Linked DNA regions of Homo sapiens: all the other regions are linked to region 2. Evidence: fine-mapped expression QTL. A gene starts in region 2. Each other region holds a variant in brackets. All regions are shown on one strand. Distances are from middle to middle.

Region 1 (10,471 bases), 280 kb before region 2:
GAGATGAGGGTTCACTATGTTGGCCAGGCTTGTCTCCAACTCCTGACCTCAGGTGATCCTCCCACCTCAGCCTCCCAAAGCGCTGGTATTACAGGCATGAGCCACCGTGCCTGGCCTCATTATGTTTTTGACTTGCATTTTTCCCTAATGACTAATGATGCTGAGCATCTATCTTTTCATGGGTTTACTGGCCATGTGTGTATCTTTTTAGGATAAATGTTGTCTTAGTCCACTCAAGCCGCCATAACAAGAGACCATAAACTAGGTAGCTTAAACAAGAGAAATTTATTTCTCACAATTCTGAAGGCTGGGAAGGCCAAGATCAAGGTGCCAGTTGATTTGGTTCCTGATGAGGGCTCTCTTCCTGGCTTTCAGATAGCTGCCTTCTCATTGTGCCCTCACATGGCCTTTCCTTGGTGGATACAAGGGAGGGAGAGGGAAAAAGAGAATAATCTCTCTCTCCCTTCCTCTTCTTATAAAACTGCTAATCTCAGGCCAGCCGTGGTGGCTCACGCCTGTAATCCCAGCACTTTGGGAGGCCGAGGCAGGCGGATCACAAGGTCAGGAGTTTGAGACCATCCTGGCTAACACAGTGAAACCCCATTTCTACTAAAAATACAAAAAAAAAAATTAGCCGGGCGTGGTGGTGGGCGCCTGTAGTCCCAGCTACTCGGGAGGCTGAGGCAGGAGAATGGCATGAACCCGGGAGGTGGAGCTTGCAGTGAGCCAAGATTGCACCACTGCACTCCAGCCTGGGCGACAGAGTGAGACTCTGTCTCAAAAAATAAAAATTAAAAAATAAGTAAATAAATAAATAAATAAATAAATAAAACTGCTAATCTCATGAAGGCCCAACCCTCATGATCTAATCTAACCCCACTTACCTCCCAAAGGCCCCATCTCCAAATACTATCACACTGGGGGTTGGGGCTTTACCATATGAATTTTGCTATTTGTCCTTTAATTGTTGTTGTATAAGTTCTATATGTACACTGGATACTAGACTTTTCTTATCTGTGGATTATTTATTCACCTTTTTTTTCTGAGTTTTGGAACTAGAGACCTTCATTTTCCAGCTTTTTTTTTTTTAGGTATAATTGATCTTTTCACTTTCTTAGTATCATCTTTTGAAGCATAAGAGTTTTTAATATTGATTAAATCCAATTTCTCTACTTTTCCTTTCGTTGCTTGTGCTTTAAATGTCATATCCAAGAAAACATTGCCTAATCCAAGGTCATGAAGATTTAAACCTTTCTTTCTTTTCTAAGAGTTTTATAGCTTTAGTTCTTTGATCCATTTTGAGGTAATTTTTCTATGTGATGTCATCTGACCATTTTTCAGAATGTATTAAATGGCTAGCCATAAAGTCTACTCAAGAAAAAATACAGTATCCCCTCTTCCCATTCCAGCCAAATTCCACTATACCACTATAGGGAGACAACTCTCCTTGTGTTCCCAGCTGAGAAGATGAAAGATGTGTGGTAACCCAGAAGGACAGAGTTGGAACAGTAAGTGCCCAGCTGATTACTCAATGAGGAATTGTAACAGTTCAAGCATTTTAAGCCAGCCAGGTACAAGGCAGGTTAGCTCTCATGGGCTGCTGAATAAAAGCAGTTATGTACCACTCAGCCAGAGAATGAGCCAGCTCCCAGGATCTCTAATAATAAGAGCTATCCTTTTCCTCCTGTTTTATCTATCCAAGTTCAAAAGGAAAAGGAATATGTCAGGGTTGGTAAAAACCACTTCTGTCCTTTCCATCCCCTTCTGTCACATCAAATCTTGAACATGTTCTCAATAGTGAAGTGCAATTAGATAAATGTAACAAGGAAAAGAGTAAAGAAATATTAAGGAAGCAAAAAAAAAAAAAAACAAAAAACAAAAATCTGTTTTAGCGTGTCTTGATCTTCAGCCAACCTTTATAAAATCTTACCAAGCGTTAGGTAAATTTGGCAACAACAGCCTGTTTAGAATGTATCAAAAGCTTAAAATTAAGTGTAGTCTCTCACAGTTTAATGGATAACCAGCAACCTATGAGTCTACAAATGTTTCCCTTCTTAGTATATGAGGCTAAGTCTCAGTTTTCTCATCTCTGAAACAGAGATGATGATAACACTTATGTCTGACTGCTCCTCAAGAATGAATGAGATCATGTCTACAAAATGAGCTCCCGGGGGAAAAAGCGTTAGATAAATTCTGAGCCTTAGAGTTGTTGATTTTGTAAGATATAAAATTATAATAGATTTTTATTCTTGAATACAAGAATCTCAGACTTAAAAAAAAAAAACTTGATTACGTCAGACATTCAAGAGTTCACCATTGTGAGTTTCTTACTCAATGTTGAGCAAGTCTGGACCTGTCAATCTCTCTAACCCATGAAAAGCACCACTCCTCACTTTCTTTCCCAACAAATTAACAAAGAGGACAAAAGTAAACTTGAAAATAAACAGGCTGGGCATGAAGGCTCACACTTGTAATCCTTACACTTTGAGAGGCCAAGGTGGGAGGATCGCTTGAGCCCAGGAGTTTAAAACCAGCTTGGGCAACATGGTGAGATCTCATCTCTACAAAAAATAAAATAACTAGCTGGGCATGGTGGTACACACCTGTGGTCCCAGTTACTCAGAAGGCTATAAATGGGAGGATCCCTTGAGCCCAAGAGGTCAAGGCTGCAATGAGCTGTGGTCATGCCACTGCACTTCAGCCTGGGAAACAGAGCAAGACCCTGCCTCCAAAAAACAAAACAATGAACAACAAAAAAGTCTCCCTGACACCAAAAGGGTAGCATATAGGGAAGAGGCAAAAACTGAACTATCATAGCCATGTAACCATATATCAACAGCAAAGCAGTCCTCCCTGTTTACAAGGACTGGTATTCTTATCTAGTCTTATGAAGAAAAAAGAAGGCTGTAAATTTTATTTGGGAAAAACACTTGCACATCTTTTTAAAATAACTGGCCATACTGTATAAAGAGCTAAGTTATGTCAATAAACATGGAAATGAGAAGCTATTTTAAAAAGACAAAAATAAAAATAATATGAATAGAAGAAAGAGGAAAAAGCAGCAAAATAAAGATCTATAAACATGGATTTTTTTCATATTCCTCCATCCACTTTCCTTTCCTCACTTGAATAAGGACATAATAGGAAGCAGAGCTGAGCAAATAGGACAAACTGAAACAATCATGTTTCACTAAAAGACATTTATGATAGAAATAGTTCTATATAAATGGATAAGTATACACATAAATGAATATATAAATGGAATTATACCTAAGTAGATAAGTATTCAATGCAGACAGTAGCACACATTTAACATGTAGTGACAATTTTTTAAACACATAAGAACTTATCTATCTTAATGGGCATTATTCTGCAAAGTAGAGGGGATTATCCTCTTGAGAGAAGGCCTTAACTCTGGTCTGAAGTACTTAGACCTAATATAATAATAAATAAGGAATCATTAAGGGAAGAATGTAAGCTATGTTTAAATTAATAAGAATTTTATATTATAAAGGCAGAATTAACGAAAAATCAATTACATAATGAGGAAACAAAAAAGGAGAAACCCCACCATAAAAACCAAGATTTTTAACGCTGGAGAATTATGAGTATGTCAATATCACTGAAAGGAATGCAGACATTACACAATAAGTTCATTTCAAGAAACTGAACCCCATGTTAGACATGTTACACAGGATATTTCAGAGGAACTCTCAAATGGAATAGTCTAATTGACATTCAAAGCTATTCCATTGGAGTTTAGGAGACATGTCAGTGATCAAGAGGGGGAAAAATAAGTCTCATCAGCATAGTTAATGTTAGTTAAAGTCTTGAAAGTAGAAAAGCTGTCTGAATTGAATGTAGAATAATGATGCAGAATAATGAAGGGAAGAAAAGCACATTGGTGACTGAACTTTGGGGAATATCCTCTGGGTTATGAGAGAAGCTCTTTCAACTTACACCTCCATTACAGTACTAATCACACTGCATTTTATTTGCAGAGCTGCCTCTACTTCCTGTGACTTCTTTGTGGCAAGGTAGATGTTACAATAAAAGTTTACTGAATAAAAGTATAAATAGTTAGGGACCAGAGAAGAAAGGGGAAAAAAGAGAAAATAAACCAGTAGAGAAGTAGGTGAGTAGGGAGATTACAATGGTCATTGCTTATTAATCCAGCATAAATAAAATACACAGAAATATGAGCCTATTTGGTACAGGAATTGATCTAAAGTATTCCAGATCCAGAGAAAAAAGTACCTTGATACAACCCTGGTAGAACAGATTGAAGAGTAAAGGAAACTAAAGCTGATAGTTCTTCAACAGTTCAGCTCCCCTAAAGAAGGGTCAGACCACTTGTTTTAGACACTGAGAGAAATCAGCCAAATAATGAAGAAAACAACAGAGTTAAACTGAATTTACAGACATATTAACTTTGTATAGATACACAATTTTTTAGCATCTAGAAAACTGATGAGTAATGAATCCAGCTGCCAGAGACTCCCTGATGAAGCTAACTAAACAGTGTAAAGATCAGTAAATGGACCAATTTAAAGCAGTTTGCTATTAGCTTAATAGTGTCAGAAATTCTAAATAATAATAGTAAAAAAGGCATAATTAATGGTGCATAAACCAGGGAGCTAAGGGATTCCTGTCTTATTCTTCACCAATTTCCTTTGTGAGGTTCACTGAGTAATTTTTGTTACTAATTAGTAAGAATAACTAGGCCAGGCACAGTGGCTTACGCCTGTAATCCCAGCACTTTGGGAGGCCGAGGCGGGTGGATCACCTGAGGTTAGGAGTTCGAGACAGGCCTGGCCAACATGGTGAAATCCCATCTCTACTAAAAATATAAAAATTAGCTGGCCGTGGTGGCAGGCGCTTGTAATCCCAGCTACTTGGGAGGCTGAGGCAGGAGAATTTCTTGAACCTAGGAGGCAGAGGTTGCAGTGAGCCAAGATCACGCCACTGCACTCCAGCCTGGGTGACAAGAGTGAGACTCCATCTCAAAAACAAACAAACAAACAAAAAGAATAACTAGCATTATTGAGTGGAGGTTAATATTAAGAGCCCTAACAACTGGAGAGAAGACTTAGGCTACAGTTGGCTACTAAATGTGATTGAGCATGAGCAAATGATTCAATTTTAATTATGTACTTGATGTGCAGTACTTCCTCTTTGTACGAAGAGTTAGCCACTCACACTTTATCACAATAAGGATTAAATGAAATTGCTTTGAGTTTTTAAAGTAACAGTTAAATTAAAACTAAGTCACCATGACAAAAATTGTCTAGAGTTTGTATTGGCATGAGTATGTGGTTATTCCATAAATGATAACCCATAAATGATACTCCCTAAGAGTAACAATGATAATAAAACTATTCTCTTGTAGTTACACGGCTTTTCACTTTTTTCAAAGCACTTTCACAAATATTAGTCAAACAAGTAGCCTTATATATGATCTGACCACTCCTTGTACAAGCACATTAAGTGTGGGTTTATTTTGCAAGGAATGCTCCTATCTCCTCCCTAGTGCTAATAATATACTCCATTTATATAGCTTTTTTTTTTTGGAGACAAGATCTCACTCTGTCACCAAGGCTGTAGTGCAGTGGCGCAATCACAGCTCACTGCAGACTTGACCTCCTGGGCTCAAATGGATCTCCTGCCTCAGCCCCCTAGTAGCTGGGACCCCAGGCACACCTAGCTGATTTTCACATGCCTGGCTGATTTTTGTATTTTTTGTAGAGATGGGGTTTCATCATGCTGCCCAAGGCTCGAGCAATCTGCCTACCTCAGTCTCCCACAGTGCTGGGATTTTAGTCAGAGCCACCATGCTTGGCCAGATTTTCACTTCTTTATTTTTTTTTTTTTTGGAGATGGAGTCTCGCATTGTC[G/A]CCCGAGCTGGAGTGCAGTGGCATGATCTCAGCTTACTGCAACCTCCGCCTCCCAGGTTCAAGCGATTCTCCTGCCTCAGCCTCCCAAGTAGCTGGGGTTACAGGTGCCCACTACCACCCCCAGCTAATTTTTTTTTTTTTTTTTTTGTATTTTTAGTAGAGACAGGGTTTCACTATGTTGACCAGGCTGGTTTAAACTCCTGACCTTGTGATCCGCCCGCCTAGGCCTCCCAAAGTGCTGGGATTACAGGTGTGAGCCACCGCGCCCGGCCGATTTTCACTTCTTTCAAAGCAATTTCACAGACATTAACAGGAGCAGGGCCACTAGGAATGATCTTTCCCTTCTCTGCATCAACCCAAAGACAATAATTCAAAAATGAACAAGGAAAAACTTATAAATAATTAGATGTTTTTGAAGCAGTCAGCCCATGATTCTTGAACTTGGATTCAGATCTCCCAAAAGTCTCAGAATCAGAGCAAACTCTTCAGGACAATAGCTGATATTCCCTTTTTTCTAGGCATAGGCTTAAAGAGGCAATAGAATAATTAAGGTATCTTCACTAGGGGTATAAAGGGAGAAACCAAATCTGTCTTGTTCACTACTATAACTACCTTTAAGTGGAGCACAAGGCCTAATGCATAGTAAATGCTCAATAAATTATCATTGTGATTAATACTAAAGGGAGAACATTCTTACCAAATGCTCACAGAATGTTCTGGAGCTAAAATAAAAATCTTGGCTGGGCAGGGTGGCTCACACTTGTAATCCCTACGTTTTGGGAGGCTGTTGCATGAGAGCTTGAGACCAACCAGAAGTTTGAGACCAGCCAGGGCAACAAAGTGAGATCCCATCTTTAGAAAAAATTTAAAAAGTAACTGGGCATGGAGGTGTGCACATGTGACCCTAGCTACTCAAGAGGCTGAGGCTGGAGGATGGCTCAAGTCCAGGAGCTTGGGGCTGCAGTGAGCCATGATCACACCATTGCACCCCAGTCTGGGTGACAGAGCAAGGCCCTGTCTCAAAAATAATAATAGGACAGGTGCAGTGACTCATGCCTGTAATCCCAGCATTTTGGGAGGCCGAGGTGGGAGGACTGCTTGAGCCCAGGAGTTCAGGACCAGCCTGGGCAACATAGTGAGACCTCATCTCTAATAATAATAATAATAATAATGTTTAAAATCTCATTTTTTATTACTTTTCCTCCACAATTAGTTTTTAAATGTGCTCAAAATAAAACAAAAAACATTAATGTGCTCACACCAAGTAGAACCTAAACAAAATTAGGGTCACAGAGCAAAAGCCGAAGTCTGTAAAATATCCAAGGATACAGACAGTTGGAAGGTAGATTCAGAGGGCCAAGACAATTTACAAAGGAAAAGGGGAATACATCTGATCACTTCATTTAGCAACAAGCATTTTTAAGTCCTCATTCTTTTTTATTTTAAAAACAGTCTTACTCTGTCACCCAGGCTGGAGCACAGTGGCATGATCATAGCTCACTGCAGCCTCAAATGCCTGGGCACAGGCAATTCTGCCTCAGCCTCCTGAGTAGCTGGGACTACAGGTATGCCCCACCATGCCTGGCTAATTTTCTTTATTTGTAGAGATGGGGGTCTCAATATATTGCCCAGGCTAGTCTCTAACTACTGGGCTCAAGCGATTCTTCCATCTTGTCCTCCCGAAGTGCTGGTATTATAGGTGTGAGACACTTCAGCTGGCCTGTCTCCATTCTTCAACTAAAAATTACTTCAGAAAAGAAGTTTCAAAAGGTAGAATTGTTTCCTATATATTTGTGTCTTTAGAGTATTCATCTTGTAACTGAGTTGTAAAAATAGTTTGTTTTCTTTGATATGACCAAGATAAAGAAAGGTATTGGCCGGGCGCGGTGGCTCACGCCTGTAATCCCAGCACTTTGGCAGGCCGAGGCAGGCGGATCACGAGATCAGGAGTTCGAGGCCAGCCTGACCAACATGGTGAAACCCCGTCTCTACTAAAAATGCAAAAAATAGCTGGGCGTGGTGGTGCGCACCTGTAATACCAGCTACTCAGGAGGTTGAGGCCGGAGAATCGCTTGAACCCAGGAGGCGGAAGGTTGCAGTGAACCAAGATCTCGCCCCTGCTCTCTAGCCTGGGCGACAGAGCGAGACTCCGTCTCAAAGAAACAAACAAACAAAAAAGGGTACTCTGGGTACCTAGGCCTGGGTTGTCCTTTGCATCCGCACATGTTCGCAGTCCTCTCCGCCATGCTGCCACTGCTGCGCTGAGTGCCCCATATGCTGGGCTTCTGCGTCGCCGGCTTCCACACCCCCGGGGCCCGCCCCGCCTTTCCGGCAGCTCCTGGCCGGCGCCCCGGCTGTGCGCCCGCCCTTCAGGCTGCTCAGTTTGCGCGCGTGTTCTGCGGCCGGGCCCCCTGCGGCCTCGCGGGCCCTGCACCTCCGGCTGTGGGTGTGGCGTGCGAAGGAGACAAAGCTTTGATTGATTTCCTGAGTGATGAAATTCAGGAGGAAAGGAAAATCCAGAAGCATAAAACCCTTCCTAAGATGTCTGGAGTTTGGGAGCTGGAACTGAATGGGACAGAAGCTAAATTAGTGCGGAAAGTTGCTGGGGGGAAAAAATCACTGTCACTTTCAATATTAACAACAGCATCCCACCAACATTTGATGGTGAGGAGGAACCCTCGCAAGGGCAGAAGGTTGAAGACCCTGAATTGATATCAACTCCCCATTTCGTGGTTGAAGCTATAAAGAATGATGGCAAGAAGGCCCTTGTGCTGGACTGTCATTATCCAGAGGATGAAGCTGGACAAGAAGAGGAGGCTGAGTGACATCTTCTCTATCAGGGAAGTTAGCTTTTGGTCCACCAGCGAGTTTGAATGGAAGGATACTAACTATACACTCAACACAGATTCCCTGGACTGGGCCTTATATGACCACCTAATGGATTTCCTTGCGGACCAAGGGGTGGACAACATTTTTGCAGATGAGTTGGTGGAGCTTCGCACAGCCCCGGAGCACCAGGCGTACATTACTTTTCTTGAAGACCTCAAAAGTTTTGTCAAGAGCCAGTAGAGCAGACAGACACTGAAAGCCATAGTTTTATGGCAGGCTTTGGCCAGTGAACAAATCCTACTATGAAGCTAGACATGTGCTTTGAAATGATTATCATCCTAATATCATGGGGAAAAAATACCAAATTTAAATTCTATGTTTTGCACCCTCATTTATTATCATTTTTTTCTTTTTTCCTTTTTATCTTTTTTTCTTTTTTTTTGAGACGGAGTCTCTCGCTCTGTCGCCCAGGCTGTTGTGCAGTGGCGCAATCTCGGCTCACTGCAAGCTCCGCCTCCCGGGTTCACCCCATTCTCCTGCCTCAGCCTCTGGAGTAGCTGGGACTACAGGCGCCCGCCACCACGCCCGGCTAATTTTTAGTATTTTTAGTAGAGACGGGGTTTCACCGTGTTAGCCAGGATGGTCTCGATCTCCTGACCTCGTGATCCGCCCACTTCAGCCTCCCAAAGTGCTGGGATTACAGGCGTGAGCCACCGCGCCCGGCCTATCGTTGTTTTCTATACAAATCTATTATTTCTAGATTTTTGTATAACATGATAGACAATAAAATGGGTTTATCTCCTCCAAAAAAAAAAAAAAAGGTGCTTTAAGTAATAATTGAGTTGCTATAAATTTGGGTATAAATTCAAATTTTAATTGATTTGCATTTTACAAAGCACGAAGAAAATTTGTCATTAAAAAATGGTAATACATTTCATAAACATTTATTTTATAACATTATACCTTTCCAATGTAGCTTTTTGGTTGTTCCCTTTTTTTGTTTGTTTGTTTGTGACCAAGTCTTGCTGTCACCCAGGCTGGAGTGCAGTGGTGTGTGATCACGGCTTACTACAGCCTTTACCTCCCAGGCTCAAGCAATCTTCCCACCTCAGTCTCCTAAGTAGCTGGGAGTACAGGTGTGCACCACCTTCCCTGGCTAATTTTTTTTTTTTTTTTTTTTTTTTTTTTTGTAAAGATGGGGTCTCGTGATGGTGCTAGGCTGGTCTTGAACTCCAAAAAGTTCTACTGGATCAAGCAATCCGCCTGCCTTGGCCTCCTAAAGTGCTGGGATTACAGGCATGAGCCACTGTGCCTGGCCAGTTGTTGCCATTTTAATACACAGTATGTTTTCTTTTTTTTTTTTTGAGACAGAGTCTCTCACTCTGTCACCCAGGCTGGAGTGCAATGGTATGATCTTGGCTCACTGCAGCCTCTGCCTCCTGGGTTCAAGGGATTCTCCTGCCTCAGCCCCACCAAGTAGCTAGGACTATAGATAGGTATGCACCACCATGCCTGGCTAATTTTTGTATTTTTAGTAGAGATGGGGATTCACCATGTTGACCAGTCTTGAACTCCTGACCTAGGTAATCTGCCTGCCTTGGCCTCCCAAAGTGCTGGGATTACAGGCATGAGCCACTGGGCCTGGCTACAGTATATTTTCTTAAAGCAAGGACAGATATAAGCTTTTAAAAATCTATTAATATTCCAGATTTAGTCTGGGAAAGTTTATTTTTAAAAGTTATTTTGTA
Region 2 (10,344 bases):
CCTGTCTCAAAGAAAAAATGTCAAATCTTGGGTCCACCACAGACCTGCTGAATCAGATGCTGCATGTCAGCATGACTGCCAGGTGACTTGTGTGCATATTGAAGTCCCGGCTCTTATACCTGCTATAAGAACCACCTCTGCCCGAGATAGGCTCAAGTCTCATAACCCTGGGAGGGATGCCCCCGGCCCAGCACTTCCCACTGTTCCTGGTGATGACCAACAAGCTCCATTTTTGAGAGCACCTAAAAGTTCACAGAACACTTCCACATCTCGCCCTTGTTCAGCCTGCGGATCAGCAGTCAGGGCGAGTGGTGCTTTTCCTTTATACACGAAGAGGCCGCAGCACCCAGTGAGGCTGGTGACACCCACAGTCATGCAGGGTGGAAGCGACAGGGTCCATGCTCTGCTCAGGGCTTCTGACACTCCAGTTGGGGCTCCTTCTACTGCATTTTCCATCTCTACCCCACCAGCCCCCCATCCCCACCTTCCCCAACCCTCCCTTGGCTCACCTTGGGCAAGTTGGGAACAAACTTGGTGTCACCAAAGGACTTGTAGTTGCCCATGTTGGAGTAAACACCCGCGGCATAGACCAGGAACGCCTGAGGGGGAGGCAGGCATCAGAGACCCAGGAAGCACAGCCTCCCTGACCCCAGCGACACCTCCTCCTGAGATGCGAATGCCCCAGCAGAGCCAGTGTGGGTGAGGCTGGGAAATGTGTGGGCAGGACCTAGGTCCTGGGAAGCCCCAGTCTGGCCCACACTCACTTCCACAGACCCATTTTCACACCCCCGTTGTCTGGCCTAACTGATCTTCTGGGCAGTTCCCAAACACACCCAAGCATTCGTCTGCCTTTTCCCTCCCCACCCCAGCACCCTCTCAGCCACCTGAAGCTACTGTGTCCTTTAAGGCCCAGTTCCAGCAGCACCTCCCTCTTTCTCCAGAGCCTGTCCTCAGCCTCTGACCTGTCAGGCAGCTGGCCTTGGAAGCATCACATGTTAGAGCCGGAGAGGCCTTAATCATCTGTCTATTCTATGGCTTCTGCTGGCCCCAGATCTTCCTCTGGTAACAAGACCTCAATCCTCCTTTTGTGGGTGGGAGGGTGGGGTGGGGGATCTCCCTTCCCCCAGCTCCAGGGGTGGGCATGTAACCTGGCTCAGTCAGTCTGAGAAACCACCATCCTTGGCTACAGGATGGACACAAGGCTCAAGCTGGCATAAGAGAGCTACCCAGGACATTTCCCATTGGCAAAGAGCCTCTGTACACCAGGGATCATCAGGCCTGGAACTCCTGGAGCTCCCCTCCAGGAGTAAGAAAAGCAAGCAAGCTGAGAGACGAAGACTGCATCCCAGTGGTAGCACTGAGTCCGAGTCCAGCCATGCCTGAAACTTCCTCTAGACCTGGACTTTTCAAGCATGTGACCCAACAATTCTCCTTTTCATGTAAGCCAATTTGAGCTGGGTTTCTGCCACTTGCAAACATATGAATTCCCCTAAATGGCCAGGCGTGGTGGCTCACACCTGTAATCCCAAGCACTCTGGGAGGCCGAGGCGGGCAGATCACGAGGTCAGGAGATTGAGACCATCCTGGCCAACATGGTGAAACCCCATCTCTACTAAAAATACAGAAATTAGCTGGGCGTGGTGGTGCATGCCTGTAATACCAGCTACTCAGGAGGCTGAGGCAGGAGAATCGCTTGAACCAGGGAGTTGGAGGTTGCAGTGAGCTGAGATTGTGCCACTGCACTCCGGCCTGGTGACAGAGCGAGACTCCGTCCCCCACAAAAAAAAAAAAGAATTTCCCTGAAAATAATAACGCTTGGGTTGCACCTTTCTGTTTATAAACATTTCCACGGATATTAGCTCTTTTAATGAGTAAGCCAAGGCCTCAAGATGGGAAGTGAATGCCCAAAGTTCAAAAGAGGTAGAATAAACAGTACATCAGCTCAGAGAGAAACAATCCAATCCCTTTATTTCACATATAGAAAAACAGGCCATATTCTTGTACATTCTTGGTGGGAATATAATGCAGTGAAGCTTTTTTAGAAGATGATTTAACAGAATCAGTCAATTGTAAATGTACAGAGCCTTTGACCCAGCAGTTCTTCTAGAAATAGATCCTCCTCACATGTGTGCACAAGTATGCTCACCATGGCACTGTTTGTAAGAAAAACGGGACAAGCTAAATGTCCAGTAATGAAGATTAAATTGATTATAGTGTACACTGCTGTGGAATGCTTTACAGTCAATAAAAAAGAATGAGGTACATTTAAATGTACCCCATTCTCCAAGTTCTTCAAGACATGGCATTCAATGGAAAAAGCAGGACACAAAGCAGGAAAAGAACATTATCTCATTTCTATAAAAAAGAAAATAAGGAACTGATTCACCATGCATATACACATAAATGTATGTAATACACAGATGGGATTGAAAAGGCTGTAACCAAGGCTGGGCACGATGGTTCACGCCTGTAATCCCAGCACTTTGGGAGGCTAAGGCAAGTGGATCACTTGAGGCCAGGAGTTCAAGACCAGACTGGGCAACATGGTGAAAACCCACCTGTACTAAAAATACAAAAATTAGCCCGGTGTGGTGGCACATACCTGTAGTTCCAGCTACTTGGGAGGCTGAGGCATGAGAAGTGCTTGAACCTGGGAGGTGGAGGTTTGCAGTGGGCCAACATTACGCCACTGCACTCCAGCCTGGGTGACAGAATGAGACTCTGTCACAAAAAAAAAATAAAAAATAAAAAAGAGAGAGAAAGAAAAGGCTGTATCAGCCTCAGTGGGTTACCTCTGAGGAGGGCACTGAGAATGAGTGATCTTTGTGTTTTCTTTTGTGTCTTTCTGCATTGCTGCAATGCACTAAGAATTTGTGTATTACTTGGCCAATACATCCAAAAACAAAAACCAAGGGACAGGCAGAACATTCTGCCCAGGGCCACACAGTGTGGTAGAGAAGAACTGGTCCTGAACTCAGACCTCCTGATACCTACTCTGGACTCCTTCTTCTGCCTTCCCTGAATCTCCACCACAGTTTCTTTTGTTATAATCACAGCAGCCATCATTTATCTTGAAGTCAGGCACTGTTCTAAGTGGGTCATCACAACACTAAGAGGTACAGACATCCCACATGCATATTTTACGGGTGAGAAGACTGAGGCTCCAGAGAGGGGAAGTGCCTGAATTTGTAACCTTTGGTCTAATCCTCCACCTACCCCTTGAAAGAGACAGACATTTGCATCCTGGTCTTTCACACCCAGAAGCCACTCAGGTAATGTGGGTTGGCCCAAGAGAACTGACCTGATACTCCTCCTCGGTAAGGCCTTCAGCCAGGGCATGTTGGCGCAGCTGGTCGGGGTCCTGGGCGCGGAAGAGGCGGCTGAGCAGAGCATAGATGTAGGGGGCCTCAGGGGAGGTCTGAAGCAGCACAGCCAGGCCTCCGTACCAGGCGGCACGGGACAGGTGGTAGGCATAGAGGCGCTCTGTGGGTGACAGCAGGCGGAAGGCCTCACGGCAGTCCAGGCTAGACACGCCGATGTCATTGGGCAGGATGTACTGGGTGTCCGCCATGGGCCCTGCTGAGAACCATCACTGTCATCACAGCTGTTGTTTACCCCATACCAATTGCATACCTGGCTCTGAACTCTTATGATCTCATTTAATCCTCCCAAAAGCCCATGTGGAAGGGAATACTATTGTACCCATTCACCAGATATGCTAACTGAGGCTTAGAGAAGGTGAGATGACTCACCCAAGGGGTCACAAAATACACTGGTGGACCATATTTGGTCTGTAGTCCCTAAACCTTAAAGATTGACTCTAAGGTCAGGCATGGTGGCTCACACCTGTAATCCCAGCACTTTGGGAGGCCGAGGTGTGTGGATCACCTGAGGTCAAGAGTTCAAGACCAGCCTGACCAACATGGTGAAACCTCCTTTCTACTAAAAATACAAAAATTAGCCAGGCTTGGTGCCAGGCACCTGTAATCTCAGCTACTGGGAAGGCTGAGGCAGGAGAATCACTTGAACCCAGGAGGTGGAGGCTGCAGTGAGCTGAGACCGCACCATTGCACTCCAGCCTGGGCAACAGAGTGAGACTCCACCTCAAAAAAAAAAAAATTGATTGACTCTAACTACCTAGTATTACAGATGGGGAAACTGAGGTTCAGAGAGGCTAAGAGCCTTGCCTAATCCCACAATGGAGACATCAGCAGCAGAGATCCTCATCTCTAGGCTCCCAGCCCAGGCCCCTCCCTGCTTCCTTGTTCAGTATTATTTTTTTAAGACGGAGTCTCACTTAGTTGCCCAGGCTGGAGTGCAGTGGCATGATCTTGACTCACTGCAACCTCCGCCTCCCGGGTTCAAGCGATTCTCCTGCCTCAGCCTCCAAAGTAGTTGGGACTACAGGCGTGCATCACCATGCCCAGCTAATTTTTTGTATTTTTGATAGAGACGGGGTCTCGCTATTTTGTCCAGGCTGGTCTCGAACTCCTGGCCTCAAGCGATCTGCTTGCCTTGGCCTCCCAAAGTGCTGGGATTACAGGCGTGAGCCACCGCGCCTGGCCTTTGTTCAGAATTCTTTACACTTTCCACTGTGCTCACAAGGATAAAGTGCCAGGCCGCCAGCTGGAAGGCTCAGCCTTTAGCCAGGACTCGGCCCCAGACTCCTAAAAGTCAAGTCCATTGCTTCACTTTTCTGTACCTCCGTTTCCTCCTCTATAAAAGAGAGAATAACCCCAATATTACCAGGTGGGTGCGCTAATCAGATGAAGTCGCCCTGGACGGAAAGTATCCACAGCAATAAATGATTTTGCTTGAAACTGTCCCATTCTCATCCCTCTAAATGCCTTTTCCTTGGCCCTCCATTCTCCTGCTCGCTCCCTGTGCTCCACCAGGGAAGCCACAGAAGTTCACAACCAGAAGAAAGCCCATTTTACAGATAGGGAAACTGAGGCTTGGAAAGGGCAACAATTTACTGAAGGTCTGACAGCCCCGTTGGAACCCGGGGATTCCCCAACCCGGGGCATTCTCCCCGCCACGCCCCGTCCCGGCTGGGACAGAGTGTCCAGCCTCCTCGCCCTGCCCCGGCCTCCAGAAGCCCCGCCCCAATAGCACAGCCTCGAGGTTCGGAAAGGGCTGTTAACTCTTTGCTCCCCGGAGCACTCCTTGGCCTCGAGGGCGGGGTGAATTTGGAGGGGGTACTGGAGAGTGGGCAGAAAGGGAACGATTTTGCGCTCAGTATGGATTCGCCTTGGTCCCCCGGGATGACACGCTTTGACCCCAAAAGCCCAGGCGCCGCGCCTCACCTGCAGCAGCTGCTCCGTTCGCAAACTCACTTCCTGCTTCCGGCTCCCCCATTCATTGGGGCTCTGCGAACCCCGCCCCCCTTGGCCAACTGCCTGGCCTCGGGGTCCGGATGGGCGTCAGTACCAGCCAATAGACGCGCCAAGACGAGCTTCTCGGCTCGCCCGCTCCCGCCCCCAGGCGCTACGGGGTGGCGCGCGGATTGGCCCTGCGGGCTCGGCCTTTTGTCAGCAGGCCGCACACGCGCCGGACCGGGTACCGCTGTGCCCGGCCTGGCCGCGGCCTAGTCCCGGCAGACGGGACTGACGAGGTCACCAAGCCCAGGCCGAGACGGCGCGGGTGTCAGGGACTTGGGAATCCCCCTCCCCCAGTCCCGATCCCGCTTTCCTTTGGGGTTTCACCTCAGAGGACCCGACAGCACTCTTGCAGGTGGGAACCTACACAATAGGAGTAATGTGGCTCCACCTTCCTCTCGGGACTCGGGACCTGGGGGTGGAGACTTGGAAGTTGCAAAGCTCTCGGTGCCGGGAATCGGGGCTACGGTTGAGTGGGATCGGGCCAGGGCTGAGGTGGTCCCACCCGTGTAGGGGCGCGGAGAAACGCCTCGACTGCTTCACTGTACCACCACCCACCCGCCACGGGCCTGGAAGGAGCCGCTAAACATTCCCGAGCCTCAGTTTCCTTAGCACAAACAGGCTGGTAGTTTCCTGGTGCTTGCCAGATGCCTGATGGATGAGAAAGCCTCCTGCGGCCCCGAAAGGGAGTCCAGAGCAGAGGCGGGCCCGCGGTCCACTTTTACAGGTCTGGACGGACTCACGGGACCACGGTCTGGGTGGGGCATGCGGAAGGGCCTAGGCCAAATGGGGAGTAGTGGTGAGGGCCCAGGGTCAGACTGGGGGGTGGAGTGAGGTTGTCTGGGAGTCTTGGCTTTATGAACCGGAAAACCAGGCTAATAATTGAATCCAATCCAAGGGATATTGTAAGTTGTGATGTGTTGACTGCAGTGCCGCTCCCTATAGTTGCGCAGGGTGAGGGGCGTTTGGGTACTGAAATCCCGCACGGTCTCCTTGCTACGCCCGTGTCTAGGCCAGACAGCCTCTGCTTACCATAGACACCAGTTTCTCATCCACAAAGGTGCCCAAGGCCCTGCTTGACACAACAGTGTTACAAGCTGTTAGCTTTGATGATTACTTGTTATATGGGGGAGTTCAACAAGTTGGTCGGTGTCCTTAGGAAAGTCACCCCTCTTCTTTCCTGTGCCTCCGTTTTCATTGTCTTTAAAATGGGTATAAAGTTGGCTGACAGGTGAAGTTGAAATGTGCACAGGTAAGGGAGGTAGTGCTGCCCACTGCCAGCAGGGGGCAGCTCAGGCAAGGAAAAGACCCCAGTGCTCTCAGGACCCCCCAACCAGCTACGTGATCACATTTTTATGATCACAGATAAGATGAGCATATACTGAGGTCCCTTGCTAGCAGTTTGGCATGGAGGACCTCATTTAATTCTTGCAAAAATCCTGAGGTATGATCACTTTACCCATTGTACAGATAGGGAAACTGAGGCTAAGAGGTTCGCCGACTCCTATAACACCACACAGTTCAGATATCCCTGGCCCCAACATAGAGATACACACACACAGTCACTCACATGGAGCAGTCTATCACTGGAGTCATAACTCCCCAGCCTTGGCTCTTCCCCATGGGAATGCAAAAGGGGTCGGTGAGGAGCAACAGTTACGAATCAACTGTGTTACAGGTGCTCTCTGTATATTCACAACCACCTGGCGAGGTAGTGACTGTTATCCCCTTTAGCACTGAGGAAACTGAGGCTCTAACAGCTGGCAAAGGCAGAGCTGGGACAAGACCAGGGCTCTGACCTCCTCCACCAATACCTCTGAATCCTCCCCAGCATCTACTGTGGTGCCCTTTGCTGGTCTTTCCTCCTAGGGTCTGAGGTTCCCCACTGGAAATGGGATCAGAATGTTCCCCTGCCTGGTTCCCAACAGGGTCAGAAGAGAGAACTTGGAAGAGTTGGATTTTGAGTGCTTTGTGTGTTGTGTGTATGTTGAGGGGAGAGAAGTTGGAATGCTCCCACACCTCCTGCAGCATCCCCACCCTCCCCTTCACCCCCACTGCAGCAGTGCCATGCTCTGGAAGCAAGAATCTGATCACACCCTCCTCCTTCTCTCATCACATTCGGGTGCCCTCTGTCTTCTCAATAACCCAGGTCTGATCTCCCTGGCCGCAACCAGCTGTGTGGCCTTGGTCAGGTCCATCCCTCCCCTTGGAATCTGTACTTCCCTAGGCTCTGTCATCTATTGGGGACGATGCCCAGGTCAGGCCTATACTCAGAGCCTTCTTCTCTTCATCTCCAGAACAGCCGTCTGCCTGTCTTCCTGGCTCGCTCCCTGCAGGAATGGTCTGGGGCAACCCCAGCAACACGCCCACCTGTGGCCAGGATGAATAGGAATCCAGTTCAGGCTTGGCTTCCATGGCAATCAAGGCCCACCAGGCCCCAGCAACCTTCCCTACCCCCCATTCCTTTTTGCTGCCCCCCTCCACACCAGGCATGTTCCCTGCCACACCATGCTGTTCCCCTCACCTGGGCTGCCCTCCCAACTCCTCTCTGCCTCTGGAGATGCTCTGCCATTCAAGACTTGGCTCAGGCTCCAGGTCCTCCCTGGGCCTTCTAGAGCCCCTGGTTCTCACTCCTCTGAACACTTCCAGCCTGGCTAATAGCCCACTGCATCCTGGCCTGGGGTACAGGTGGCCAGCACAGGTGTGGGGGCCAGCTTCCAACACAAGCACGGGTAGGTCCCTCTGCAGACCATGGGCTGCAAGAGGCCCGGCCTTGCCCACTGCAGGGGCCCTGCGCAGGGCTGGGCACGAAGCAGGTGGGTGTCCACCAATCTAGTATCCAAAACCCTGCTTGGTTCACCCCCACCTCTGTTGAAGGAAAGCAACACTGTGATGGAGAGGAGCAGCTGTGGATTCAAATCCTGGCTTGGCCACTTTCTAGTTGTGTGACTTGGTGCATCTGCCCTCATCTCCTCAGAGACAAAAATGGCAACACCTCCCTTCTTGGGTTACTATGAGGATTAAATAACAAAACCTCCAAGAAGCAGAGCCCGGTGTCTGGAGAGTGCTCAATGGACGTAGTTATTATTATCATCATCAGCACAGTGCGGGGCACATGGTGGGCATTCAGGGATGATGGCCCTTGTGTCACAGCCGACACTCTTGACCAGTGAGTCCTCTCTCCTCCCTTTGTTGACTCCTGACCGTCCACAAATGAGGTTCAGAATCCTCCATCCAGCATCTTCCCTGGTCACATGGTCCCAACCTTTTGCTCCACCCCCTTCTCTGTTCCCCCCGCAGTCCATGCTCCAGCCATCCTGACTCTGTCCCTGGATTTCTGGCTTACTGACACCTGAGCCTGTGCACAGGCCCTCCCTTCTGTATAGAGCACGCTTCCCATCTTGTGGACTTGCTTCCCATCTTGTGGACTCGGAGGGTTCCGAGCAGCCGTTGAGGCTGAGCTCCTATGACACCTCCTCCGTGAAGCCTCCCTCACTTTTCCATTACCAGTGAGGCCTGCCACAGCCTGATTTGTACTCTGATCCTGGCACGCATGAAGCCGTGTTGCCATTTGTTAACAGTCTGTCCTCCACTAGACTGTGAACTCCACCAGGGGGGGAACCAGGTCTGATTGCCTCTGTGTCCCCAGATACCACTTAGCACAGAGTCGAGCCCATAGTGGCTATCAGCAAGTGCTAGGCCCAGCCTGCCACCCACCCACCACTCACTTGGGGGCTGGAGGCATTGCACGCATGCGGGGCATGTGGGACTTGTGGGGGCAGCTGAGCAGCGAGGTTTATAGAGGAACCCAGGGCGGCAGCAGGAAGGATGAAGGATGAGTGTCTGAAACTGGGTTGGCAGGCTCAGGGCATAGCCAGCCTAAGCTGGGGGTCAAAGGCCCCTGGCCCCTTCACTCCCCCAGGGGCACACAGTGTCGGCGGCACGATGTGGGATGCCCCAGGAAGGGCAAGGCCATGGGGCTGGGCTTTCCTCCATCGACCCAGGACAGAGCTGGTGCTGAAGGCCCCATCAGCATGACTGGGGTGGAGATCTTGGGGACCTCCTTGGGGGGCCACAGTTGGGGGGAAGGGCACAGCCCATCCAACATGTCCATCTGGTGTGGCTGTGCCAGCAGGGAGTGTCCCACATGCAGAGCTCCCTCTGGGCTGCAGGAGGTGGGGACCTGGGTGGGCAGGTGGGCACAGCAGCAGGGGGCCCCAGGGAGCCTAATCCAGCGGGCCCTGGAAAATGAGGCGGACGCAGCCATGCTCGCCGGTAAGCCAGGCCCCGCAAAAGGGGCAGGCGGCATGGAAAGCATGGGTGCCGTGGGGCAGTGGTGTCTGGGCCCAGTAGCGGGCAGTCTTCTCAGAGCAGACGTGGCCGCAAGGTGCAAAGGCATGGCTAGGCGGCCCAGGGTCCAGGCAGAGGCCGGCCTCCTGGCCAAGCCATAGAGGCACATAAGGCCCCACAAGGCGGCAGAGAGGACATTCGCGCTCCTGGGGGCCCCGCTCCCGCCGGCAGCCCCAGCCGTGGTAGCCATGGACGTGCCCGCAGCGGACGTAGACCCAGGGCTGCTGTTTGTCGGGCGCTGTGCGGCCACGGGCTGGGCTGGGGAAGGCCAGAGTGCTGAGGCCCACGGGGCACTGGGGCCGCGCTGCATTTGCCTCCTGCCGCTGGGCCTCCAGTTGCTTCAGTGTGGGAGCCCGCAGCAGCCCCGCCGGTGTGCGCCACAGCAGTGTGGCCCCACACAGGTCGATGAGAGAGCCGTCCTGCAGCACGTTGGACTCGTTTTCCACCTGCCAGAGGCAGTAGAAGGGCCTTACTGCCCAAGAGGCCCCTGCTGAGCCGCGGGTCCATCCCACAGAGCCTCCCTGGAGAGGACACCCTGGCGGGCAGGGCAGGCAGGGCAGAGGAGCAAGGCAGGCTAGGAGGCCAAGTGGGCAGGCAGGTGCATCCCAGGCACATG
Region 3 (10,471 bases), 45 kb after region 2:
TGTGAATGCACCAATGGACACTGTATCTAGCTACTCTGGTGGGGACTTGGAGAACCTTTGTGTGGACACTCTGTATCTAGCTAATCTAGTAGGGACATGGAGAACCTTTGTGTCTAGCTCAGCGATTGTAAACGCACCAATCAGCACCCTGTCAAAACAGACCACTCGGCTCTCTGTAAAAGGGACCAATCAGCAGGATGTGGGGCGGGGGCCAGATAAGAGAATAAAAGCAGGCTGCCCCAGCCAGCAGTGGCAACCCGCTCGGGTCCCCTTCCACACTGTGGGAGCTTTGTTCTTTTGCTCTTTGCAGTAAATCTTGCTACTGCTCACTCTTTGGGTCCACACTGCCTTTGTGAGCTGTAACACTCACCGCAAAGGTCTGCAGGTTCACTCCTGAAGCCAGCAAGACCACGAACCCACTGGGAGGAACAACTCCAGACGCGCCGCCTTAAGAGCTGTAACACTCACCGCGAAGGTCCGCAGCTTCACTCCTGAGCCATCGAGACCATGAACCCCACCAGAAGGAAGAAATTCAGAACACATCCAAACATCAGAAGGAACAAACTCCAGACACGCAGCCTTTAAGAAATGTAACACTCACCGTGAGTGTCCACGGCTTCATTCTTGAAGTCAGGGAGACCAAGAACCCACCAATTCCGGACACACTAGGGAAGTTTAATTACTTTTCAATTCCTCAGATAAGGAGTTTTTGTCTCTGGTCACCAGGTGATTTTTGCTCTCCTCATGATTCAAAGGTCACCAGGTGATTTTTGCTCTCCTCATGATACAATAAGATGCTGGCTTATTTGGTCACAGATGATATATCGAATGTTCTGGGTCTGTTAAGCCTCACAACAACTCAGGTTTTATCTTAATCGTACGGTTAATAATAGCACATGCTGACTAGGTGCCGGGCATTGTTTTAAGCACTTTGCTAACTTAGTCCTCACAGCAATCCTAAGAGGTAGGTGCTACATATTACAATACCTGCTGTAGTGGGGAGGAGACAAAGCATAAGAAACTTGATTAAGTTCACATGCAGTGGCGCAATCCTGGCTTACTGCCGCCTCCAACTTCTGGACTCAACTGATCTTCCCGCCCAGTAGAGATGGGGTCTTGCTGTGTTGCCCAGGCTGGTCTCAAACTCCTGGGCTCAAGCGATCCTCCTGCCTTGGCCTCCCAAAGTGCTGGGATTACAGGCGTAAGTTACCGTGCCCAGCTCAGGGTCTACACTCAACCGTACTGCCTTTCAACAGCATGTGAGGAACAGAGAGAGGAGAGACTTCCATTACCAATCAGGAGCTCCAGGTGTATTTCAAACCCTAGGATTATCACCGTGTGCAGCAGATGGCGCCCTGGCGCATAGCAATTGGCCGGACCTGCACACGGAGTCAAAACTACCATACCCACAATGCTATGGGGTATCAAGGTCCCACCCTACTGGTTAGCTGTCCGAGGTAGTGCCTGTGCGCGTTCCTGTGGGAATGTGTGTACCTAGGCCATTCGGGCCCTTCCTTTATCTGCATAAAACAAGTTAAAAAGTGTTTTATCCTCCTCTCATCCTCCTTGTCTTACTAGTTGGCGAGCAATAGGGTTGAAACAAGGCTGCTGTTTGTTGGCCTCACCTGCCCTAGCCTAACGTGAGGACCCTTGACCTCTGGCCCAAGATGGTGGCGCCCAGAGCTTCGCTCTTGCTGCTCCCCTGAGGTGAACTGAAGCCAGCAGCCCCGCATCATGTCAAAGCTCGGCCGGGCCGCCCGGGGCCTCAGGAAGCCCGAGGTCGGCGGTGTGATCCGGGCGATCGTGCGGGCAGGCCTGGCCATGCCCGGGCCCCCACTAGGCCCAGTGCTGGGTCAGGTGCGGCCGTGGCGGGAACCCGACGTGGGGGTTGTCTAGGATGGTGGAAGCTAGGACGCGGATGGAGGGCGCTGGCCCTGGAACCACCCGGGCCTCGGTTCAGAGCTCGGCTCTGCTTCTCACACGCTTTATGTCCTTGTGCTGGTTACAAAGTGTCTTCCACCTGGGCTTCCTCATCCCTTCTTCAATGTGCTGTAATGAGGATAACGTGGGAAGATGCGTACGATCTTCTGGCTCACGGAGGGGTAGTTGAATCTGGGTACAGATGGGAACCCAGAGAAGTGAAGACGAAGGAGGGAACGGACGGCGCCTCCTGGGCGATAGGAAGCCGTCCCCTCCTCTCACCACTAACCCCCTCTGCTTCCCTCACAGAGAGGCGTTTCCATCAACCAGTTTTGCAAGGAGTTCAATGAGAGGACAAAGGACATCAAGGAAGGCATTCCTCTGCCTACCAAGATTTTAGTGAAGGTGGAGTCTGGACTCTGATCCCTGGTTTCCTTCTCCCTCTGTTCTTCCTCGGCCCTGGGACTGGTCATCTGGGGTTGTTTCTCTGCTCCTGACTTGACTTCCTATTACTGGGCTCCACTTTCCCCATTTAGGACTAGATCATATTTTTTCTGAACCAGCCCCATCTTGCCATGTTGCAGTTCCTCCCTTTGCCCCTCCATCTCACTGGGGCTTCCAGAGCAGAATGAGGGCAGGAATAGAGGGGACAGGGATGTTTGCTGCAGATTTATTTTTTTCTTTCTTTTTTTCTGAGATGGAGTTTTGTTCTTGTCGCCCAGGCTGGAGTGCAGTGGCACGATCTCCGCTCACTGCAATCTCCTCCTCCCGGGTTCAAGCAATTCTCCTGCCTCAGCCTCCCGAGTAGCTAGGATTACAGGCGCCCGCCACCACGCCCGGCTAATTTTTTGTATTTTTAGTAGAGATGGGGTTTCACCATGTTGGTCAGGCTGGTCTTGAACTCCTGACCTCAGGTGATCCACCCGCCTTTTCCTCCCAAAGTGCTGGGATTATAGGCATGAACCACTGCGCCTGACCCCGATTTATTTTTTTCTTGTGATTCTGTGGTCTTTTTGAGGGATGCCATTGGAAAGTGAGATGAAGGAAGCAGGGGGCAAGACATTAGAAGTTCCCTGGGATGGGGCAGTAGGAAGAGAGAATCTCATATTTCTTTTTTCTGTTAAGCCTGACAGGACATTTGAAATTAAGATTGGACAGCCCACTGTTTCCTACTTCCTGAAGGCAGCAGCTGGGATTGAAAAGGGGGCCCGGCAAACAGGTGAGGGCCAGGGTAAGCATCTGAGATTCTGGGGGCTCCAGAAGGAAGCAGTAACACCTGAAGAGCCACTTGTTCCTTCCTCCCAGGGAAAGAGGTGGCAGGCCTGGTGACCTTGAAGCATGTGTATGAGATTGCCCGCATCAAAGCTCAGGATGAGGCATTTGCCCTGCAGGATGTACCCCTGTCGTCTGTTGTCCGCTCCATCATCGGGTCTGCCCGTTCTCTGGGCATTCGCGTGGTGAAGGAGTAAGTATCCTGGCATGTGCAGTGTGACGAGAGGGCCCAGAAAGCTCTGGACTCGGGCAGAGCTGAGAGGGCCCATTGCAGTGGGAAAGTCAGCTTTTAAGTCAAGGGACCCTAGATTCTAGAGGATGGGGTGGGGGTGGGAGGCCACATTCATTGATCTGGAATACTCTTATTGGGCACCTGTTATGTATTAGACGTTGTTCTGCAAATGTTCTAAGAAATGGAAAGATCTCCATGAAGGATCCAAGTGGGAGAAGTTCAGTGTGACCTGGGTCTGTCGTCCTAGAGGCAAGTGGAGAATGGTATGAGGGAAGGACCAGTGCGAAGGACTTTTGAGCTGTGTCAGGTTCATGCTTGCTCCTGAGGCAAACAGGGACCCCTGTCATGGGGCTTCGGATGACTTCAGGAATTGTTTCATTGAAGTAAGATGTTGGGTGGGAGGGTGTCTGGCCTAGACAACCGCCGGGACAGAGATAGCATTCAACCCTTTACTGGCCTCTTGCTGCTGTGTTACATCCCATGTCAAGGCTGACAATTGATTATTTCCCAAGAAGAATGGGGTTAAGCATGGAGCAGACACAGACTTGAATTTTCTCAAATCTTTTTTTTTTTACTGGGAGCATGGAGATGGGTAAATCTGACCCCTGTCCTGGGAGAGACACACATGCTCAGCCCCGTGACGTCATTGTACAGCATATTCTGGGGCACAGAGTACCCCAGTTAATCTGGACTGGGGCCTGGCTGATGCCTCAAAGGATGAGTAGGGATTTAATAAGGGAACAAAAGATAGGGGTGTTGGGGGTTGGGAGATGTTGTCCCTGGAGAGGAAATGAGCAAAGGTATGGAGGCTGGGAAGTCAGGGAGGCAGAAGGGGCCAGGCAAGCTGGGCTTGGAGACAGGGGCCCCTTCAAGCCCCTGCAAGACATAGGGTCCTGTGAGCTCCCACTGGTGACCAATCATGCGCCAACCATTTGTCTTTTTTCACTTGCAGCCTCAGTTCAGAAGAGCTTGCAGCTTTCCAGAAGGAACGAGCCATCTTCCTGGCTGCTCAGAAGGAGGCAGATTTGGCTGCCCAAGAAGAAGCTGCCAAGAAGTGACCCTTGCCCCACCAACTCCCAGATTTCAAAGGAGGTAGTTGCAAAAGCTGTGCCCAAGGGGAGGAAGGAGGTCACACCAATATGATGATGGTTTTCATGACTTTGAATGATATATTTTTGTACATCTAGCTGTATCGAGGCATCAGGCCTGAATAAACATCCTTTCTTACCCACTGTCATCTTCTATCTTGGGACCTCAGGGAAGGGAACCAGTACTGGTGGTAGCCAATATGGGCAGACATTAGGAAATTGGGGTCTTCATACTGCTTCTCAGATGTGCAAACTGAGGTTCAGCCAAGCAAAGTAACTTGCCCAGGTCCTTTTTTTTCTTTTTTAAGTTATAATTTTGTTTTATTGCCCAGGTTCTGAATTGGTGCCAGAGGTAGGAATAGAACCCAGGCCTTCTCATTTGAAATCCTGTGTTCTTCCCCTCCCCAGGGTGGGAACTATGG[T/G]TGCTAGGGCTGAGGTGTATTGCTTACTTCTTCCATCAAAAATCTCTTTTATCTCTGAACAACTTGCCACCTCTGCAGAAACAAGTCCCTGTGGAGATCTCAGTTCAGCCCCAGGCAGGGTTACTACATGGAGTACCCAGATCCCAGGGGCTACTTCAGGCCCTTCTACTAAGCTCCTGACCCTGGCTCTGGGTCAGATGTTGGCTGAACATGAACTATTGTAGGGCTGACAGCTACAGACCACAGAAAGAGCAAAGCTTCAGTAGGTTCCTGCCTGATGGAGAAGTCCTCGGGAAGCCCTTGGCCTTCTATTTCCTCATTGTCCTTTCAGAGAAGAGAGCAGGAGTTGGGGGAGAAAGGAGATTCGCATTTACTGACCATCTGTTATGTGCTAGACACTTCATTTTACACTGAGAAAATATGGAAAGCATAGATAAACACCTAAAAGAAAATAAAAACCTCATGTTATCCCACCACCCAGATGAGACTTCTGCCAATATTTGGTGTATATCTTTTCTGCTCCTTTTTTTCTTTGTGTGTGTATTTATGTATAATGCTTTTTGAAAAAACAAACTGGGGTCATACTCTATATAGCTGTACAACGCTGTATACTTTCAAGTTAGCAACTATTTAGAACATTTAAAAATTGTCTTTCTTTTTTTTTTTTTGAGACGGAGTCTCGCTCTGTCACCCAGGCTGGAGTGCAGTGGCGCCATCTCAGCTCACTGCAAGCTCTGCCTCCCAGGTTCATGCCATTCTCCTGCCTCAGCCTCCCAAGTAGCTGGGACTACAGGCGCCTGCCACCACACCGGCTAATTTTTTTTGCATTTTTAGTAGAGACGGGGTTTCACCATGTTAGCCAGGATGGTCTTGATTTCCTGACCTCATGATCTGCCCGCCTCGGCCTCCCAAAGTGCTGGGATTACAAGCGTGAGCCACTGCACCTGGCCTAAAAATTATCTAAAACAATTTTAAATGATGGCTTAGTGGCTTAGTTTTTTTTTTTTTTTTGAGATGGAGTCTCACTCTGTCTCCCAGGCTGGAGTGCAGTGGCACAATCTTGGCTCACTGCAACCTCTGCCTCTCAAGTTCAAGTGATTCTCCTGCATCGGCCTCCCAAGTAGCTGGTGTTACAGGCGCTTGCCACCACACCTGGCTGATTTTTTTGTATTTTTAGTACAGACAGGGTTTCACCATGTTGGCCAGGCTGGTCTCGAACTCCTGACCTCAGGTGATCCACCCGCCTTGGCCTCCCAAAGTGCTGGGATTACAGGTGTGAGCCACCGTGCCTGGCCAAGACTTCATTTAAAAAAAAAATTTTTTTTTAATTAATTAATTTTTTTTTTTTGAGACAGAGTCTTGCTCTCGTCACCCAGGCTGGAATGCAGTGGCAGTGGCACGATCTCAGCTTACTGCAGCCTCCACCTCCCAGGTTCAAACAATTCTCCTGCCTCAGCCTCCCAAGTAGCCAGGATTACAGGTACCCACCACCACGCCTGGCTAATTTTCGTATTTTTAGTAGAGACAGGTTTTGCCATGTTGGCTAGGCTGGTCTCAAACTCCTGACCTTGTGATCTGCCTGCCTCGGCCTCCCAAAGTGCTGGGATTACAGGCGTGATCCATCGCGCCTGGCTTTTTTATTTTTAAATGTTTTAGAGACAGGGTCTTACTCTGTAACCCAGGCAGTGGTGCAGTAATAGCTCACTGCAGCTTCAAACTCCTGGGCTCAAGGGATCCTCCAGCCTCAGCTTCCCAAGTAGCTGGGAATACAGGTGCATGCCACTATGCCTGGTGAATTTTAAATTATGTTTATTTTTTATTTACTTTTATTTTATTTTTATTGTTGTTGTTATTTTTGGAGATGGAGTTTCATTCTTGTCTCCAAGACAAGAAATGGCACAGTCTTGGCTCACTGCAACCTCTGCCTCCCACGTTCAAGCGATTCTCCTGCCTCAGCCTCCCGAGTAGCTGGAATTACAGGCATGTGCCACTACACCCAGCTAATTTTTGTATTTTCAGTAAAGATGGGGTTTCACCATGTTGGCCAGGCTGATCTCAAACTCCTGACCTCAAGTAACCTTCCCACCTTGGCCTCCCAAACTGCTGGGATTACAGGCGTGAGCCACCATGTCTGGCCTATTTTGTTTTTTTAAAGAGACAGTATCTTGCTATGTTGCCCAGGCTGGTCTCAAGCTCCTGGCCTCAAATCCTCTCGCCTCAGCCTCTCAAAACACTGGGCTTACAGGCATTAGCCACTGTGCCAAAAGAAGTCTCTTTCTTTCCTTCTTTCCTTCCTTCTTTCTCTCTCTTTCTTCTTTTTCTTTCTTTCCTTTTTTGAGACAGGGTCTCGCCCTTTTGCCAGGCTAGAGTGCAGTGGTGTAATCATAGCTCACTGTAGCCTCCAACTCCTGGCCTCAAGTGATTCTCTCACATCAGCCTCCCAAGTGGTTAGGACCACAGGTGAACACCACCATGACTGGCTAATTTTTTTTTGTTATTTTTTCTGTAGAGATGAGATTTCGCCATGCTCCCCAGGCTGGTCTCAAATTTGTAGGCTCAAGCGATCCTCCCACCTCGGCCTTCCAAACTGCTGGGATAACAGTCATGAGCCACCATGCCTGGAATCTTGTTTAACTTTTTCTTTTTTCTAAGAAATGTCAGGCTATAAACCATTCTTAGAGCTCACTGGTTTCTGAACACCAAGTGTAGAAATAGCCACTTCCTCTTTGCCCAATATCACGGGCACAGCAGACTGCCAGCATCTGCGGTGCTGGCATGTTCCGGAAGGCATCTTCAGGGTAGTCACCCACACCTACTCAGCAAGCCAGAGACACCCAGCCTGTGGCCAGGGTGGGAATCCTTTCTTATCTTTTAAAGCTTTCTTGGCCAGACGTGGTGTTGCATACCTGTAATCCCAGCACTTTAGGAGGCCGAGGTGGGTAGATCACCTGAGGTCAGGAGTTAGAGACCAGCCTGGCCAACATGGTGAAACCCTGTCTCTACTGAAAAAAAAAAAATTAGCTGGGGATGGTGGCGGACACCTATAATCCCAGCTACTCAGGAGGCTGAGGCAGGAAAATCACTTGACCCCGGGAGGCGGAGGTTGCAGTGAGCCAAGATCATGCCACTGCATTCCAGCCTGGGCAACAAGAGCGAAATTCCATCTCAAAAAAAAAGGAAAACAAAAACAAAACTTTCTTATCCATTTTTCCATCTTTTTCTCTATTTTTTTTTCTTTTGAGACACTCTGTCACCTAGGCTGGAGTGCAATGGCACAATCTCGGCTTACTGCAAGCTCCACCTCCCAGGTTCAAGCAGTTCTCCTGCCTCAGCCTCCAGAGTAGCTGGGACTACAGGTGCGCACCAACACGCCTAGCTAATTTTTGTATTTTAGTAGAGATGGGGTTTCACCATATTGGCCAGGCTGGTCTTGAACTCCTGACCTCGTGATCCGCCCAGGCTCCCAAAGTGCTGAGATTACAGGCGTGAGCCACCGTGACCAGGCAGTTTTTTCTAAGTAAACAACAACCCTTCACTCACTCACTAAAGTCAGAAACAGGAGACTTCTCTTTTCCTCACCCCCATTTGAAATCCATTAGCAAATCCTGTCAGTTCTGCCTCTGAAGCATTCCAAAGCCAGTCACTCACCTCCGCCTGGACTTGAGGGAAGCACTTGGGTGTGAGTTCTCGTCCTATTTGCCTGGATCACTGCAGAAGCCTAAACTGGTCTCTGCTTCTCCTCCTACCTCATTCAATCCATTCTCCACACAACTTTCAGTGGGATGGCTTAAAAATGTGAATTATATGTCGTTCTCTCACTTAAATTTCCCCAGAGGATTCCTATTGCACATGAAATAAAATCTAAGTTTCTTATCCTGGTCCAAAGGCCCTGGGTAATCTTCCTTCTCTCCAGCCACTCTTCCCCTTGCCACACTGACTTCTTTCCTATTCCTTAAACAGGTCAATCCTTTCCCATTTTGATACCCTTAGTTTTGCTTTTCTTTGACCTGGAGCACTCTTCTTCCTCTTTCCTTCCTTCTTTCCTTCTTTCCTTCCTTCCTTCCTTTCTTCCTTCCTTTTCTCTTTCTCTCTCTCCTCTCTTTTCTTTCTTTCTTTCTTTTTTCTTTCTTTCTTTTTCTTTCTTTCCTTCTTCTTTCCTTTTCTTTCTTTCTCTCATTCTGTCACCCAGGCTGGAGTGCAGTGGCACAATCTCAGCTCACTGCAACCTCTGCCTCCTGTGTTCAAGTGATTCTCCTGCCTCAGCCTCCCGAGTAGCTGGGACTACAGGCGCCCGCCACCACGCCCGGCTAATTTTTTATATTTTTAGTAGAGACGGAGTTTCACCGTGTTAGCCAGGATGGTCTTGATATCCTGACCTCGTGATCCGCCCGCTTCTGCCTCCCAAAGTCCAAAGTGCTGGGATTACAGGGGTGAGCCACAGCGCCCGGACTTTTTTTTTTTTTTTTTTTTTTTTTTTTGAGACGACGTCTCACTCTTGTCACCCAGGCTGGAGTGCAGTGGTGTAAGTGCAATCAAGGCTCACTGCAGCCTCGCCCTTCTGGGCTCAGGTGATCTTCCCACCTCAGCCTTTTGGGTAGCTGGGACTACAGGTGCACACCACCACACCTGGCTAACTTTTTGCTTTTTTTTTTTTTTTTTTTTTTTTTTTGTAGAGACGGGGTTTTGCCTTGTTGCCCAGGCTGGTTTCAAACTCCTGGACTCAAGCTATCCACCTGCTTCAGTCTCCCAAAGTGCTAGGATTACAGGCACAAGCCACCGTGCCCGGCCTCTTCTTCTTTCTTATCTTTTAGGTCTTAGCTCAATGTCACCTTAGAAGAGCTTTCTGATGCCACATTCTAAATTAGCACCCCCTCCTCAGTTCCGCTCGGCCACAGTACACAGGTTCTTTCTTTCACTGCACGCACTGCATGCTCCCTTTAAAGAGTTATTTTACTTTTTGTTACGTCTCCCCACAACTTCAGTGTAAGGTCTGTGAGTCCAGGGACCTTGTCTGTCTTGTTCAGTTTTCCCCAGGACCCAGCAAAGCCCTTGGCGCATGTAGGTGTCATAAGTGTTTATCACATGCAAAATGAAGTGCCAGAGCCAATATTTGACCTCAGTCTTTGTGACTCCAAAACTTCAGCCCTTTCTCATACCTTTTTGCTCCCAGGGCAGCAACCTGGTGTTGGTGGCAAGGGTGCTTGAGAGTCAGATTTGGCTTCTGCAGCCACTTTGGAAGTGCCATTGGGCAATTCCTTTCTTCTCTCTGGGCCTCAGTTTACCCATCTATTCTAAGATGCAATATTGTTGATGCTCTGAGCCACAGGGACCGTGCCAGGGAAGGGAACAGAAGCAGATGGTTCTATGTCCAGCAGGGGGCGCAATGGGCTCGCTCAACTTCTTTCTCCGCATGGGTCGACGGCCTGGCTCTCCAGTTCTGAGTGTCAGGGTGCCTTCTTGTCCACACACACTCTACCATCTCCTGTCACTGCCACCAAATACCAGGGAGGGGTTTCTTTTTTTCTTCCATAATTTTT

What was found.
Region 1: its variant is fine-mapped to the expression of DPP3-DT in whole blood (TOPMed, PIP above 0.99).
Region 3: its variant is fine-mapped to the expression of DPP3-DT in whole blood (INTERVAL, PIP above 0.99).

The regions. Positions count from the first base shown.
Region 1 is chr11:66,760,067-66,770,537 of GRCh38, reverse strand. The region is part of intron 2 of TOP6BL (TOP6B like initiator of meiotic double strand breaks); the gene reads right to left. It also overlaps the pseudogene C1QBPP2. Among named protein-coding and RNA genes, the nearest start is that of TOP6BL, 21 kb to the right of the region's middle. The variant G/A (reference allele first, on the strand shown) is at 5,895.
Region 2 is chr11:66,475,428-66,485,771 of GRCh38, reverse strand. DPP3-DT (DPP3 divergent transcript) reads left to right here and starts at 5,523. Exons shown (of 4, transcript NR_120586.1): 1 at 5,523-5,733. PELI3 (pellino E3 ubiquitin protein ligase family member 3) reads right to left here. Exons shown (of 8, transcript NM_145065.3): 8 at 8,435-10,174. The coding sequence ends at 9,605. DPP3 (dipeptidyl peptidase 3) reads right to left here and starts at 5,338. Exons shown (of 18, transcript NM_130443.4): 1 at 5,307-5,338; 2 at 3,302-3,579; 3 at 510-599. The coding sequence starts at 3,571. RefSeq lists enhancers at 655-1,016, 5,199-5,368, 5,945-6,512, 7,451-8,044, 8,682-9,502 and a silencer at 5,509-5,558.
Region 3 is chr11:66,430,018-66,440,488 of GRCh38, reverse strand. It overlaps MRPL11 (mitochondrial ribosomal protein L11), which reads left to right and starts at 1,641. Exons shown (of 5, transcript NM_016050.5): 1 at 1,641-1,857; 2 at 2,230-2,325; 3 at 3,046-3,139; 4 at 3,226-3,385; 5 at 4,377-5,414. The coding sequence starts at 1,735. The coding sequence ends at 4,482. It overlaps LOC124900311 (small nucleolar RNA SNORA43), which reads right to left and starts at 7,726; the gene lies at 7,587-7,726. RefSeq lists an enhancer at 1,393-1,652 and a silencer at 1,743-1,882. The variant T/G (reference allele first, on the strand shown) is at 4,935.